Homo sapiens: one gene and its partner. The protein of the gene in region 1 interacts with the protein of each later gene in a biochemical or structural test. Each region holds a gene or a part of one and is shown on either strand. Other genes may lie near its edges.

What was found.
Region 2: the proteins of PIK3R5 (region 1) and SNX9 form a complex in vitro, tested with the Homo sapiens proteins (one study listed by BioGRID).

What each region holds. Positions count from the first base shown.
Region 1 is NC_000017.11:8,962,073-8,970,627, forward strand, and holds the start of PIK3R5 (phosphoinositide 3-kinase regulatory subunit 5), read right to left. Parts: upstream 3,636-8,555; 5' UTR 3,524-3,635; intron 1-3,523. UniProt on the Homo sapiens protein: Regulatory subunit of the PI3K gamma complex. Required for recruitment of the catalytic subunit to the plasma membrane via interaction with beta-gamma G protein dimers. Required for G protein-mediated activation of PIK3CG.
Region 2 is NC_000006.12:157,902,677-157,911,056, reverse strand, and holds part of SNX9 (sorting nexin-9), read right to left. Parts: intron 4,930-8,380; coding exon 4,845-4,929; intron 1,393-4,844; coding exon 1,267-1,392; intron 1,150-1,266; coding exon 1,032-1,149; intron 1-1,031. UniProt on the Homo sapiens protein: Involved in endocytosis and intracellular vesicle trafficking, both during interphase and at the end of mitosis. Required for efficient progress through mitosis and cytokinesis. Required for normal formation of the cleavage furrow at the end of mitosis.

The DNA of each region.
Region 1 (8,555 bases):
TAGGCTTGGTCAATTCTGGTTAAGAGCAGACGCCAGAGTCAGCCCAGCTCTGGCACCACCTAAATGTGTGGCCTTGGCCCTCGGTTTTCTCATATGTGAAATGGGGGCAATAATTGTAGCTACCTCAGAGTGTGACTGTGAAGATTAAAGGACATGACATACTCAGCACAGTGCCCAACACCATGAAGTCATAGCCAAAGGAGAAAAGGACAGGGAGAAAGATGAAAGAGAACGAAGCATGAATGTACAAAAAGACACAGGGTACAAAAGAGAATGGCAGGCCAGAACCATTTGATGAAAATTTCAAGAAATTATTCAATCATATCCAACATGCTACATTTATAAATGCAAGCAACATACTTTACAAAGATTTCTTTTAAAACATAATACAATGAAAAGTTCTGATACTTAGAAGGTAGAGCTACTGGAAAAATTAATGTATGAAAGCTATGAGAACAACATAATTCTGTGTGGACCTGTGTATCGCTAACACATCCCCCAAATCTATAAAAAGTGCACTGTATTTAATAGAATCTAAGATGCCATCAATTGTAAGATGCACCGTTATTTTGTGTGGCAATAAGGAAGAAATATTGTTGCCTATTATAATTGGAAGATGCCATAAACAGTAAAATGCACCTTGATTTCAGTGAAATTCATACAATTAGCACATTCAGTGCTAAAATGTGAAAATATGTACATCTTCAAATTGATGAAATATTTTACTATGTAATATATGTTTGCTACGGGAGGGTATCATCTTCCCTTTGGGCAGAAGTCAGATGTACTCTTTCCTTTCTCTCCTCCCACCCCATCTATATCTGAGGCTCAAAAATCAAATTAAACACCTCTCCCTTGACTTGTTAAGGATCACTCTATCTTCTTCTTCCAGGAGCTTTCTCTGTTTTTTAAATTTTATTTTTTGTTTTTGTAAAGACAGGGTCTCACTCTGTTGCCCAGGCTGGAATGCAGTGACACGATCATAGCTCACTGCAGCCTCGAACTCCTGGCCTCAAAGCCTTGGCTTCCCAAAGTGCTGGGATTATAGGCATGAACCACTATGCCTGGCCAGCTTTCTTTCTTAACACATTGGTTCAGGCTTTTAGCTCACCAGCTGAGGCCAAACAGGCATTCTGGTTCTCAGAGGTCCCACAGGGCCACGCAGCTCAGTCCCTTGGGATGAGCATCTTTGAAGAAAGGCCAAGTCAGCACAGCTTGAGTGCTCAGTGGAACCCAAGCTGGGGCTTCCAAACTCTAGGCTACCCAGGCAAAAAGGATCCTGGCTCTCCTCCTCTCCCACTCCTCAGCCAGCAGGCCCCTGATGGATGGCTAACACAGGGGTATGGAGCAGCCTGCACCCCTGCCTTCTCATCCTCATGCCAACATCAACCCCAAATGCTCTTGTCACCCAGTGCCACCAGTTAGCATCCAACCTATTCTTCTTCTTCTTCTTCTTTTTTTTTTTTTGTTTGTCTGTTTGCTTGAGATAGGGTCTCTCTGTGTCTGCCAGGCTATAGCGCAGTGAAGCGATCATAGCTCACTGCAGCCTCGAACTCCTGGGGTCAAGCAATCCTCCCACTTAAGCTTCTCGAGTAGCTGGGCAACCTGTTATTCTTGAGGGCAATAATCAACAGTGAATGGGAGGGAGGAAAGGCAAGCAGGGAGGCAGAGACTGTCTGCTTCTACTGCAGCCTGAGGAGGGAAGATAATGAATCATCCCTCTCGTAAGCTAGAGATGAAAGGAGGGAGGTTCTTAAAACCCTAATGAGGCTCAGCACACAAAGACCCCAAGCCTTCCTGCCCTCACAGTCCTGGTTTGTGAGGCTTCAAAAAGCAGGGGAGGGAGCCCTGAAGCAAGAAAGTAGCTTGACCATCCAAAACTGTCTTCTTTGTCTTCCACGGGTCCACAGGCAAAGACCCACACCACCACAGCCACAACGAGGAAACACGGAAGCCAGCGTTCTACAAACATCCACGGAGCATCTCCCACGTGCAGCCGTTCTCATCATACATGCCTCACTTAATTTTCCACACTGGGCCAGGCACAGTGGCTCATGTCTATAATCCCAGCACTTTGGAAGGCCAAGGTAGACGGATCGCTTGAGCTCAAGGAATTTGGGACCAACCTGGGCAACATGGCAAAACCCTGCCTCTACAAAAAATACAAAAATTAGCTGGGCGCCGTGGTGCTGACCTGTAATCCCAGCTACTTGGGAGGCGGAGGCGGAGGATTGCTTGAGCCTGGGAATTTAAGGCTGCAGTGAGCCATGATCACGCCACTGCACTCCAGCCTGAGTGACAGAGCAAGACCCTGTCTCAATAATAATAATAATAATAATTCCACACAGCTCTATGGGTCAGTATGACAGCCCATTTTATGAATCAGGAGACTGAGGCTGGGTTGGGGGACAGTGTGATGCTGCAGGTCACACAGCTGGATCCGGTTGGAACTTGGGTCTCTTTTCCACATCATGCATGGTTCCCAAGCAACGGCTTCAGCATCATCACTTAAGGAGCTCATTCAAAGTTTTGAAAACTACAGATTCCAGATCCCATCCCTGGAAAGCCACGTTGTAGGGTTGGCTCCAAGAGAGCCCTACCTGCAGTCAGCTCTGGGAGCCAGTGCCTTACAGGTGGTCCTGAGGGCAGGAAGGAAAGTGTGGGGTGGATGAGAAGACACAGAAGGAAAACGAGGGTGTCAGTCCAGAGAGGACCTTGGAGGCAGGCTTGGCCTACTTTTAGCCCTTATTCTGCCTAAACCCACCCCTCCTCTCTACTCCGAGTCTTGTTAACTCGCTTTATACCACATCCTGCTGCTTTAACCTCGCCTTCCTTTTCCTTCTGAACAATCTCCTTCCTCCTACTGACCTGAACTTTTTGTGTATTTACCCCAGGCCGGGATGGGCCAGCACGCGCACATGCGCATGCCCACACACACACACACACACACACACACACGAGTCACGCGGGGATGTCCAGTGTGTAAACACAGATCCTCTGAGAGCAGAAAGCGTGCAGTTCTCTAGGACAGCAGCCGCGTCTGGGCCCAAGGCTGGCTAACTAGCAGGCTGAGTGAGGCTCGACGGAGGGCGCCTTACGCGGGCACTTCCATGACTCCCAGGTTCTGACGGCACAAGAGCCCTGATGCCCACGCTCACGGACAGTTCCCCGCTGGAGCGGGCAGGGGACCTGACCCTACGACACAGGGCGTCCTGTGTCAGAGGCAGGAGGCTGAGGACACAGCTGCGCAGAGCCGCCCAGCAGAGGTTACCCGGATAACGATAAGTGGTCCCCGCGACGCCCCTTAAGTCTCTGGGGTTATCTGGAGCGCAGGTTTGCAGACCCGCTGCCCCCGCGGTGGGCCAGGTCCACGGGGCCGGAAGATAGCAGGATCTGTCCAGCCCTCGGGCTGCGGCGGCTGCTCGCGGAGCCCACTCTCCCCGACGGTCCCCAGCTTGCTCCAGCTCTGCCTGGAGCTCCCATGCGTGCCCTCCGCATCCGCCCTGGCCGCCCAGTCACACACCTGCAGTCCCCGCCGGGCGCCGAGCCCCTCTCCAGCGGCGACTCCCTGCGATTCGGGTGACCGTCGGGACCACCGCGCCCCAGCTGGAGCCGCGCGGCGAGCCGCAGCATCTGCCCAGCCTGGGCTCCTCCGGCGGGCGGGGCGGAGCCTGTCAGGGGGCGGGGCCTAATGGGGCGGGGCTGACCGCGGAGCCGGCCTCTCCAGCCACCTGGCGGCCCGGCAGCGTCAGCCAGGTGCGCGCCCGGCCCCACATCCTCTGGGTCACGCCCCCGAGGCCGCAAGGCGTCTGAGAAGCAGCCCCGGCTCTGACCCGCCAGCCCTCGGAAGAAGCAGACCCTGGCCGGTCCATGGCAGTGGCCCGAGGGGCACCAGCGCGGAGCACCAGCGACCCCCAAGGAGTAAGGGGAGGTTAGGCCCCCGCGTCGGAAGCGCGGCTTTGGCCCCGCAGGAGGGCTGGGCGGAGCAGGGGGGCAGGTCTGGGGTAGGGGCTTAGGGGAAAGACGAGAAAGAGGAAGCTCCGACGAGCTGCTTCCTTCTCTCACTGCGACCCACTTCCTCTTCCTACTTCTATTTTCTTTCTTTTTTTTTTTTTTTTTTTTGAGATGGAGTCTCGCTCTGTCGCCAGGCTGGAGTGCAGTGGCACGATCTTGACTCCCCACAACCTCCGCCTCCCGGGTTCAAGCGATTCTCCTGCCTCAGCCTCCCGGGTAGCTGGGACTACAGGCGCGCGCCACCACGCCCAATTTTTTGTATTTTTACTAGAGACGGGGTTTCACCATGTTGGCCAGGATGGTCTCGATCTCTTGACCTCGTGATCCGCCCGCCTCGGCTTCCCAAAGTGCTGGGATTACAGGCGTGAGCCACTGCGCCCGGCCCCTACTTCTATTTTCTTTGGGTGCCCTTAACCCTTAAAATGCCTGCACTACTGCTGTGCAGACGGGCACCTTGACCCGCATCCTTCTGCAGGAACCTTCATAGAAATACCAGCCAGTCCCGGCGTTCAGCACTGCTGTTCCAGCCTCTGGCTGGACTTCCCGCCCTCCCTGGCCGGCACCAAGGCTACTGTCACCTGAGTGGTTTCCCCAGCCCCTGGGGAAGGGAGTGAGGGTGTGCGGGAGTTCCTGCCTCCAGGGTCAAGGCCCTCTTCTTGCCTCCCCCTTTTCTCCCCCAGACGACGTTGCAGATGATGCTCTACCAAGAGTTGGAAGGACTCCCCAGGGAATCCCACAAGACACTGCGCTTCCTATGCCTCCTTTCCCTCGTTTAAAAAATGGGGATAAGAAGGTTGGCTACTGCTCCGACAGCCCTCACAATGGAAGAGTAGCACTTCATTTGTGGGTTAACAAAGGGCAACGCTGAAATCTCCACTTCCACTATTGAATGGAACTGTGTCATAATATCTGTTAGAGGCGTGCAAACTCGGCCACAAGGTCATGGTCATACGTTATTGTTGGTCAAAAGCCGCAGCCCTACCTGAGGCTTTGAGAGATATGAACACCAATGACTTTTCTTTTCCTGACTCCCGAAATACCAAGAAAAAGCAACTTCCCCAAATGGACAGAAACAGAAAGTACCCTTGGTTGAACACAGAGGCCTGGTTCCAGCCATCGTTAGACGTGGGAAGGAACTCAGACCCCCTCTCCTACCTCATCCCCAACCCCTTCCCCACACGTCACCCTTTCACAGAGAAGGAACCAGAGCCACCAAGGGCTGAGAGAGGACTTGATAAGGATTCCAGTCTTCTGTCTCCCCTGTCCCCACTTTTTCCACCACAAAAATATGGACATTTGGAAGAAGAGGAGAAGAGGGAAGGTACACACTGTGCAAAGGAAGAAAATGGCAGAAATGCTCTGGAATCAGGAATTCAGGAGCAAGAATGACACTGTGTGCCAGATGGAAATGTTGGATTAGGAGAGCACTTGGAAAGGCAAATAATCTGCCAGAGAAATTATGGGATGCCTGCCTTCTGAAAATGGAGGAAAACTGCAAAAGAGTGGCTCATTGGTGCTCACTCCTAGGGCTCTGAGCATCCCAAGAAGCCAACTTGGTCCCATCGTACATCCCCTCAGAAGTAGGCATTCTCCTCTCCACCTACAGCTGTGGCCCAGATGTGGAGCCTGCATGTTATGCCACGCCGTCAACACTGAGTTCTGTCTGCGTCTCCCTGTCACAGATCTGATCAGCACCTGACACCTATCCATTCTCCATTTCCCACCTCCCCAAAGCTGCTGGAAAAACTCTGAAAGGTACCTCTGTCACTCATTAAGCATCTGATTATGTACCTCTTTCTACAACTCCTTTGTTGCTTTGTTTTAAAATCTATGGCTCTTTGAAATCACTCTCCTTCCTTTCACTGCCTAATGTTTTCAAAGAGGAGTCTACCCCTGCCTCCACTTCCTCATCTTACATTTATTCCTCAATTCTCTGAACAGAGACCACCAGGGAAACCCCAAATGTCAACTCCAATGGTTTCATTTTCTTACCTCACTACAGCATTTGGCACCACTCCTTCTTGAAAATCCCCTCCTTGGCTTCTCCTCCACCTCTCACCATGATTTCTGTTTTCTTCTTCTGGCTTCATTTCTTCATCATCTCTTAAACATTACAATGCTTGAGATTTCAGATAAGGCTGCTTCTCTTCTCCCTGGGCAATCTCATCCATTCCCATCATACTGATCCCTCCCAAACTATCGCCCAGACTTCTCTCTTGAGCTCCAGATCTGTAATTCCAAGTGTTTTCTGTACACCCATACCTAGATAATCAATCCAAAAGCCTTTTAATTACTCCATGACCTAAAATAAATTCCTCATCTTCTCCCAAACTCCTTCTCCTGCCTTCCCTATCTCAGTTGACATCATTACTATCCACCAGTGGATAGTAAGATTTCTAGTAACTTATAGCCAGAATATATAAAGAACTCCCACAACTCAAAAGTAGTAAAGACAAAGAATCCAATTTAAAAATGGGCAAAAGACTTGAACAGACACTTCAACAAAAAAAAGATATGCGCATGGCCAATAAACACACGAAAAGGTGCTAACATGATGAGTCTTTGGGGAAATGCAAACTTAAACCATGAGTTACCACTTTACAGTCATTAGAATAGCTAAAATTCATACTGAAAACACCAAATGTTGGCAAGGATGTGGAGCAACTGAAACACTCATATATTGCTTGTAGGAGTGTAACACGGCACAACAAGTTTGGGAAACTGATTGGCAGTATCTAATAAAGTTAAATATACATCTACTTGTGACCTAGAAATTCCACTCCTAGGTATATATCCAAGATAAATGAATGTATATATCCCCACAGAAACATATATATGAATGACTGTAGCAACTTTATTTATAATAGCCCCAAACTGGAAACACCCTAAATATCATTAATAGTAGAATGCATTTTTTGTTAAATTGTGGGATATTCGTACACTGGAATGCTACTCAGCAGTAAAAAGGAATAAATGACTGATGCATTTGTCCACATAGGTGAATCTCACAAAAATGATGCTGAGCAAAAGAAGCCAGACACAAAAGAAAATATAGTGCATGATTCCATTTATATGAAGTTCAAGAACCAGCAAACTAACTTATAGTGATAGGAGTCAGAATGATGGTTATCTTGGGGGAAGGGAACAATTTAGCCAGAAAGTGGACATGAGTGAACTTTCTGGGGTGGTGTTTTTATCTTGATGGTGGTTAAATGGTTTCTGCATATGCACAAGTTAGTGAGATCTTCACTTAAAAGTTACATATTCTGCTCTTTGTAAATTATATCCCAGTACATAAAATATGTGAGAAAAGAAAATCCACATTGGTCTTCCTGTCACCCAGTGCAGTGGCATGATCAATGCTCCCTGCAGCCTCAAATTCCTGGGCTCAAGCCATCCTCCTGCCTCAGGCATGCCTAGCTAATTATTATTATTATTATTATTATTATTATTATTATTATTATTATTAATTTGGTAGAAATGGAGTCTTGCTGTGTTGCCCAGGTAGGTCTCAAACTCCTAGGCTTAAACAATACTCCCACCCGGGCCTCCCAAAGTGCTGGGATTACAGGTGCAAGCCACTGTGCCTGGCTGACATTGGGCTTTTATATCTTCATGCCCTTCCTCTCTCTGTCCTCTCTGCTTAAAATACCTCTCTCCACTTATTTATTTGACTGAATGCTTACTGACTATTCATGATAATCAGGAGAACCACCTCAACTTCTATTCCAGAATAAATATAGACTCCCTCCTGGTAAAAATAAACAGAGAGAGAAAAAGTAATGATATGAAAACACAAAAAGATTCAGACTTTCAACAGAACGGAACATGGTCAGAGAAAATTAGTTTCCTTTGAAATGAAATTTCCACAAGAAGAAGAGGAAAAAAAATTAAACATCTTTCTCTTTTATGTTTTTAATAATATTTGGGAGGATATTGTATTTGCAAGTGTAGTGGATTATGTAATTACAAACTGAAATTACAAGGAATCATTAAGAAATTACAAACTGAAATTAGGAAACATTTTTAGCTTGCTAAATTTAAACCTCAATGGAAACAATGAACAGAAGATTGGGAACCGAAGAAAGCTGAATGTGTGACCCAGAACTCAAGCTTGAAAATTTATCCTGGAATTCAGAAGAGAAAAGATGATCTGTGATAGCTAGACTATAGAGGTCTAATATGTGTATAACAGTAATTCCACAAGGAGAGAGAGGAGAAAATAAAATATATGGCAGAAGAAATTTTCTCTGAACTAAAGAAAGATTTGCATCTTCTACTCAATATCTTAACTTTCCTGGTAAGACATGAATTACCAAAAATTGACTTAAGAAGAGATACACTCTGAATAGACCAATAACCATGGAATTGTATAAATTATCAAAGAACATCTCTCTTGAAAGTCTCCATGTCTTGGTAGTTACATAGATGACTTCTATCAAATTTTAAAGGACAGAATTCTACCATGCTTTTAAAAAATACTACCATGAAAAATATAGTATGCTAACCTTTCATGTAAAAAAGAAAGAGAAATAAGAAAA
Region 2 (8,380 bases), on another chromosome or scaffold:
ACCGCAACCTCTGCCTCCCGGGTTCATGCCATTCTCCTGCCTCAGCCTCCCTAGGAGCTGAGACTACAGGTGCACACCACCACACCGGGCTAATTTTTTAGTAGAGACAGGGTTACACCGTGTTAGCCTGGATGGTCTCGATCTCCTGACCTCGTGATCCGCCCGCCTCGGCCTCCCAAAGTGCTGGGATGCCACTGCACCTGGCACACAACCTTTATTTTAACACACACATGCTGAGTCCCTCAGTGACTACATAGAGTAGCAGAGTCTACCCTAGGCTGGAGATTAAAAACAAAAACAATTCCCTGACACAAAAACAAACCCTTTCTACCTGCATACTTACAAGGTGCCCTGCATACTTACAAGGTGCTCTAGTAACACTATGGGTTACTTACCAAAAGATTCTTGGGGCTGGGGGAGGGGAGGGAATGTGGCACTTAAAAAACAAGAGAAGGGAGAGGGTAATAATCAAAATAAATAGAAAATGGCACTTTTAAAAAACAAGAAAAGGGAGAGGGTAATAATCAAAATAAGTAGAAAACCTGGCAGCTTCTTCCTTCATTAACACTTAGTAGTTCTGTGGCTTCTCTGTCCAGTGCTCACTCATCTAATGAAATAATGCAGCTCATCTGCATAACCTGTTTGCATCATGTGGGTCATACATTTTTATTTCCATTTTAGGCTATTTGAATTATTTCTATTTTTTCAGGTGTCATTTTTCACATATTTTAAATGTACACATTTCTTTTGTAGAAAAGGTACAGCAATGAAGACAATGACTGCTGGAATTCCAGACACATACCAAAACCTGTGATTTGCACATTAAACGTTCTTGTGAGACGTTTAGGCAACTTCCAGATAGATGTACAACATGCAATGGTTCTCTCTTCATAGCTGTATTTAATTACTGTTTCCAACTCCTGCATCCTGCTGCTCTACAGGATGGAAAATGCCATCACTGACTTACAGGAAGATAATCTGACTGGAGTCTTTCTATTTGTCATCCTGGGTTTAGCATTACACACACTCACCTGTGACTTGTTTGTCTGGAAGAGAAGGGATTGGAATGGCTGACCCAAACTTAACCAGGAGACGCTCATATAACCAGTCAAAGTGCTTATACCTGTGGTTTACAGATCGATTAGTGTTCTACAAAATAAGGGAAAGAGAAAAGGTTACCAATGCCAACTCTAGAAAATGAAGAAAAAAGCAAGCTGCAATCAGTGATCCAAACATGATTCTGCTTTTGATAACGTGGATACTTACAGTAGGTGTTAGCTGATATTCGATGTAGCTCTTTAGACCATACATTTTGGAGCCTTTCCTGGGATCTGCTACCACACAGTCAAAAGTAGAGGTAGGATAAACCCACATTGGGCCATAATCTCCAACCTATGCCAATGTTCCAGAAAGAAGTAATTTTGTTACATGGAAAAATAATAAATACAATTGATGTGAATCAGCAAGTAATTCTTTTCAGAATGAGAAGTCCTTTGGAGGGTCATTCTTGTTCCTCTTTGAAAGGTACATAAATGGTTCAATGGTTTCTGTTCCTGTTAGATATTATGTTTAAAGAACACACCTGTGGGAAACCCTTCTGCTCCCACGTGAGTAGCTCAGCCCATGGAGAGGAGACACCAGCTTCCCTCTCCCAAGGACAGTGCTGGTTACAAGACAATGTTTCTTTCTAGTCTAGCTGTCTCAAGCTACACGTGATGAAGGACTAGTTTTTAAAAATTTCGAATCTATCACAGACTAATAGTTTGGTGAAATATAACATTACACATTTTGATTTTTCAACAATACCAAATTGTCCTCAAGTTTTCAAAATATTCTCATGTACTGTACCTATCTCACGGTGGATCAGGAACAAGCAGTTTTCAGATGGGCAAGTGGTCTGTGGACCATACTTTGAGTAGCATTGTTCTGGCTCATAGAAACGATTAATCAGATTGGCCAGAGCCTGATAGTCATTGTTTTACTACTAGTGGCAAGGTGGGGGGAGGGGGAGGTACTACATCTTAAAAGCAAGAACCAGGCTAGCTGTTTTCTTCCGTGGACTGCTATGTGCCTAAGCACAGTGGGCTGGCTCACTTCCAACCCCCGGGTATCACGTCCACCTGGGCAAGGCTTGCCTGAAGAGGGTAGGCCTCCATTCTTTTCTCACTGGCCTTCTCTTCTATCTGTGACTAGGGCAAAAGTTCACAAATTCAGGCGAGGCTTACACTAGCTCACTGGGGTTTTAGTTGTGGTGGGAGGTGAGGAAGGGAAACCAGCTAAATTCTATGTGGGGGTGTAGAGACCTCGTGTAAGTTTTGAGCCTGAGGATCATTTCTTCTAGGCACTGCTAGGTGACAATAGGTCTGCTGTCCCAAACCTGGTTTTTTCATCTTATTTAAAACAGCATCCAAGGCCATGGGGGCAGCTGCAGAGGAACCTGGATGCTGGAGCTCATGTACAGGCTTCTGGAATCACTACCTGAGTCACCAATAGTCTCAAGTTGGTTCTGCCTCATTCATTTCATAAACTTTGATCACAATGACAGATTCTAGAGGTTCAGACTGCAGGACAGTAGCTCTTATCAAAACACATTTCAGAGCAATAGAAGTCCTTATTATACTGAGAATGTTATCTATCTTCTTGGCTTGAAAATGAAAAATAATTGAGTTATAATCCAAGAAGAGAATGAAAAAACAAACACATGGACTGTAAAAGGACCACTATTCAGGAAGCAGATTCACTCAGAGATTCATTCAGAGATTCAAGGAGAATGAAATAATTTATGGAACAGGTTTTATTCTTGCAGACTTGAAAAAGTACCATAAGAAAGTAAAAAGAAAATGAGAAAAATCACACAGATTGCGCTGAAGGAAGAGAGATTTGTTTCGGCTGAGACCTCAGAGAGGCAAGGCCAGACAGACATAAAAAGGAAAAAAAGGTATACCCAGTCCTAATTTTTTTTTTTAAGAGGAAGATGGGAAAAGCGGATTGGGATATTAAAGTTCAGAGGCTGTTAGGTCAGGAAGGTGACCTACTCCAAGGATAAGAGTAGTTTAAAAAGAGACTAAAATCTCTGAGAACAATTACTATAACCCCCTCAGGGAGAGCCCAGATCCAAGAAACTAGCTGAAAGCTGCAGAGGAGATGACTTTCGGGACCTCCCTCAGTGAGTGGGCCGAGAGCAGCAACTGTGCTTGGCTAAGGCCCAATTTCACGGGGCTCTGTTTCATGAGTGGGCAAGGTTACTGCACTTTTAGAGCAAAGAGTTAGTCTCTGCTTTCTCTGGGCCTCCTGAAGACGCGGTGGCTTTCCTCAGCTTCTTCCATGTATAGACGCCCACACAGGCAGACCTGCCTACTGGGTGCATGGGTGCAGTTCTACTTAAAACTTGCCGGTCAATGAAAGGCTGGAACCCTTAGCTCTGTACCACCACTGCAAACCTGGGACAAAGTCCCCTTTAAGAATGTGAGGCAGGCCGGGCGCAGTGGCTCATACCTGTAATCCCAGCACTTTGGGAGGCCAATGTGGGCGGATCACAAGGTCAGGAGTTCAAGACCAGCCTGGCCAATATGGTGAAACCCCGTCTCTACTATAAAATACAAAAAAAATTAGCTAGGCGTGGTGGTGCATGCCTGTAATCCCAGCTACTCGGGAGGCTGAGGCAGGAGAATTGCTTGAACCCGGGAGGCAGAGGTTGCAGTGAGCCAAGATCACACCACTGCACTCCAGCCTGGGTGACAGAGTGAGACTCTGTCTTAAAAACAAACAAACAAACAAAAAAACAAAACTGAGGCAGAGCTGTGCGCTCTTGATTTTGAGGAGTTTTAAATGTCATGAAAAGAATAATGGTACATGTTCAATTTTTATTAAGTCCAGAGAAAACAGGAAAAAAAAATCTTTAATATAACTACTCAGAAGTTAATTATCCCAAATTTGCTTTGAGGGAAAAAGCATAAAAAGGGCTCTTGGTTACAGCTCTTCAGCTTGGAGGCTTCCAGGATTTGGAGTTTTTCAAACATGCAGGCACAAGTAATTAGAGAATCTAATACTATTCCTGCAATTTTATCAAGTTTCCAAAGACTACAGAATAAGACCAGATGTTTCCTCATCCTCGATTGAGTCCAGGATGAGAACACTCAAGGCTTCAGGTTCCCAATCTAATTGTTACAGGGTTAAGTCAATAGGATCAGAAGATAGCTACAGTTCTCTTTTCCAGAATTTCATTTGGGAATCTACAACTAAATATCACCTAGACAGAAAATCTACCACCAATCAAAATGTGGAATGAAACCGAAGGGCTTGTGTCACATTATGCAATAACCAAGTAATTCTAAGACAGATATTCTCAATGATGTCTTTAACTCCCAGCTTCCATTTGGTAGCTCCTTATCTCAATTTGACAGCTGGTTTACTGGAAAAAACACTATTACCAAAAACACTATTACCCATATATCTGAAAGGGTACCTTATTCTGATAACATACATGTACTTTACAAGGGAAGAAACATAAATATTTGAATTGAGTTCATCAGTTAAACATATAGGGCTGGCAGAAAAACTATGTAAAATACACTTCAAGACACTTTAGAAAAAAATGATCAAAATAGTATATTTGTTCAATACTAAAAGTCTGAAAGATAAAGAATAAACAATATAATGACAGGCATTAATTTGTGTTAATTATCTTCAGTACTCCTACAACACTAACATATATTATCAGTTATGTGGGGCATTAAATATATTTAAAAATACTTTCCAAAAGATGAATAACTCGCTTAGCTTTAAAGTACGGTATAAGAAAGAGCTTAATCAGAAAGAAAGCAAACAAAAATAAACAAACTTACAATGATGGGAATTTTCTCTTTGGGTTTTGCTAGTTGTTTGGCCAACAAATACTGTTCCGTGCCAGGTTTCGCAAATCCAGGAAATCTAATCATGAATATAAATGTTCATCAGTCTTAAGACTTTCCTTGTAAGAATTTTACAACTCTCGTCTACATTTACTTACCAGTTTTAACCTTGTCCTGTCTTTCGGGTGCACTAGAACTGGAAACTGTGGTAAATGAAACCTAATGTAATCAGATTGTTCAATGGCCAATTAGGCATTTAATTAAGCTTGATCTGGTAAACAGAACAGTTTGACTCCAGAAGGTGTGATGTTTACGGGCACTCTATTTGCTTGACTGTGTCTGAAACATTCGGTCACCCCAGAGTGAAGGGCAGACCTGAAAAAACGCCCCCCTAGTTCCCTGGGGCAGTGAGTAGTGAGCACGCCAATCTGAGTTGGCCACAGGGGGCAATAGCCACATGCTGGCATTTCTACATCCAAATTAAAGTTGCCTTTCAACAGGCTCTCTCCAGAGGCCACAACTGTCCCAAAGGGGCTGTCCTGCTCATCAGCATATGTGCTTGTTTCTTTTGGAATTGCCTTCAGAAGCAGTTCATGACAGCGGAAAACAAGTCTCTTTAGTAGAGACCCAAAGTGTAATCAATAAATTTGGCTATGGGGAGGGGGTGGGGGGGAGGTCACTTAAGACTCAAAAACTTAAATAAACTTGACTACTTCCAGAAATCACATCTATATCCAAAGGACATTTCTGAAATTAGAGGACAGCTAGAACATAGCCATCCAAAGGGCTACTGAAAAAGACAAGATTAATTTGGGTTTTAGAATTTTTCTTTTAGTAAACAGAAGAAAAGGAAGCAAAATATCTACAATGGGAAAAGGAATCTTATTTCTACGAAGTTCCAGTCGCATTGCTTCTACTTTCATTCATGTGCCAAGCCAAAGGCCAGTGTGATGCTCTCAGGGGCCCGTGTCTTCTTTTCCTGCATTCTCAGCTGACTTCCCTTGAGTCTCCTTTCTCTAGACATTCCTTTAAAACGCAGCTTACACAAGAGACCAGATGTGTCCTGCAGCTGGATGGCATGGGGTTTGAATTCTGACTCCAACACTTAGGTAGCCTTAGGGGCTGAAATCTCCTTGTGGAAGAATGAGACCAGAATGACCTACCTTCTAAGGTGATAAGGGAATTAAAGATTTATGTAAAGAACCTAGTATGTACTCAGTACATTTCAGTCATTGGCAACTAAGTCATCCTCTCTTTGGAAGTACTCCCTGCAGCCGCAGGTAGAGTCTTCCTAGGCATTTTGAGCATATTTTGTGATTCTATTCATCACACCTGACTGCCGCTATCCATTTACCTATTACAGCAGCCAGAGGGACTTAGAGGAAGCATTTGTGTTTTCAGGACCTGGAGGAGTTTTGGGAGCATACTGAATGCTTAATGAATTAGGCTAACCTGCAACACTTTTATTTATTAATTACTCTATTTTATTTATTTTTTTGAGACAGAGTCTCACTCTGTCGCCAGGCTGGAGTACAGTGGCGCGATCTCGGCTCACTGTAACCTCCACCTCCTGGTTCAAGCGATTATCCTGCCTCAGTCTCCCAAGTAGCTGGGACTACAGGTGCGCTTCTGTGGGGATTATATATCATGACAACTCCTTGACCAGCTTGTAAGCATTTCAATTTTTGGGCACTGTTATGGACCACAGAAAAATTTGAGGACAGCAATGTATTAATTATTTCAGCATCATCAAGATGCCTTTTATTTTTTTTTTGGAGACAGAGTCTCTGTGTCGCCCAAGCTGGAGTGCAGTGGTGCCATCTCGGCTCACTGCAACCTCCGTCTCCCGGGTTCAAGCGATTCTCCTGCCTGAGCCTTCCAAGTAGCTAGGATTACAGGCGTGCCACCACGCCCAGCTACTTTTTTATATTTTTGGTACAGATTGAGGTTTCACCATGTTGGCCAGGCTGGTCTCGAATTCCTGACCTCGTGATCTGCCTGCCTCGGCCTCCCAAAGTGCTAGGATTACAGACATGAGGCACTGCACCTGGCCCAAGGTGAATTCTTATAGTGCTCAAGTATATTTAATTTCAGATCTCTTTTTCTAGTATAAGATTTATGTTCCATGACTAGAATACAGCTGTCATATAAAATGGATTAATTGCTGAAAAAGTGTTAATACTTAAAAACATTTTTTATAATTGTTTTAAGTTTAAGTGACTCATTTATACAGTTTAGTTAAATACAAATACACAGGGTGTTAAATCGTTCACAGCACTACAGAGAGACAGAGATGCCTCAGAGGCACAGGTTCAAGTTAGGACTGCTTTAATGTGGTTTCAGCCTGGAATGATATTTTAGAGCAGAAAGAATTCTTAAAGCCAACCTCCTTGCTTTCGAGATGAAGAAACTGAGGTTCCAACAGGTCACGAAACTTGCCTTAAGGTTATAAGCAAATCAGAGAGCAAGTGTGGAGCAGAGGAGAGCACCAAAAACCAGAGTCAGAGACCCCCAGGCATGAGCTGGAACCTCACTCATCAGCCATGAAAACGTGGCCACTCATTTTTCTCAGTCTCTGCTTCCTTCGTTTTCAAAATGGGGCTAATTTATATGAATTTTCAATATACTTTATATTCACATTTAAAGAACAGCTGACAATGATGCACATCACTACTGACCATGACTGAAAACTTCAAATTTGACTCTGAAACAAGACACAGTTGACTAACAAGACAGAGAATTATTCACTTTATTATGCATGCAATTGAGCAGGAAAATATATAATGGAAGAAACTGGGTAAGAGGCAGCAAAAGTGTGCAGTCAAAAGAGAACTCATTTAATCACTGAAGCTATTTAAATATACTTTGGAGAACTTGTAGGACTTATTAAACTAGATCTAGACCTAGATCTTGATGTCTAAATATATGTCAAATGTTATGTTTTTAATTTTTCCAGACACAGATTAACATTCTTTGATATCTGCCTTGAATCATGGAATTGGAATATTGGGAAAAAGTATTAGTAATTTCAAAAAATAAACTAAACATAACTGCTGGAAGGAGTACTTGAAAATTCTGATGGAAGTCATAAATTACTAATATATCTCCTTCAAGCTACACTGGCATAGACTACAGCCTTATTTAGGTCTCTCCAAAGAATCCTACAGTGGTCACTGGTGCCCACATGCTTTCCTGTTAAGTAGGGTATCTACAAGTACTGTTAAAAACTTTTTTTTTTTGGCTAGGTGTGGTGGCTCAAGCCTGTAATCCCAGCACTTTGGGAGGTAGAGGCGGGCGGATCACTTGAGACCAGGAGCTTGAGACCAGCCTGGCCAACGTGGTAAAACCTCGTCTCTACTAAAAATACAAAAATTAGCTGGGCGCGGTGGCACATGTTTGTAATCCCAGCTACTCAGGTGGCTGAGGCACGAGAATTGCTTGAACCCGGGACGTTGGGGTTGCAGTGAACCAAGATCGCACCACTGCACTTCAGCCTGGGTGACAGAGCGAGACGCCTGTCTCAAAACAAA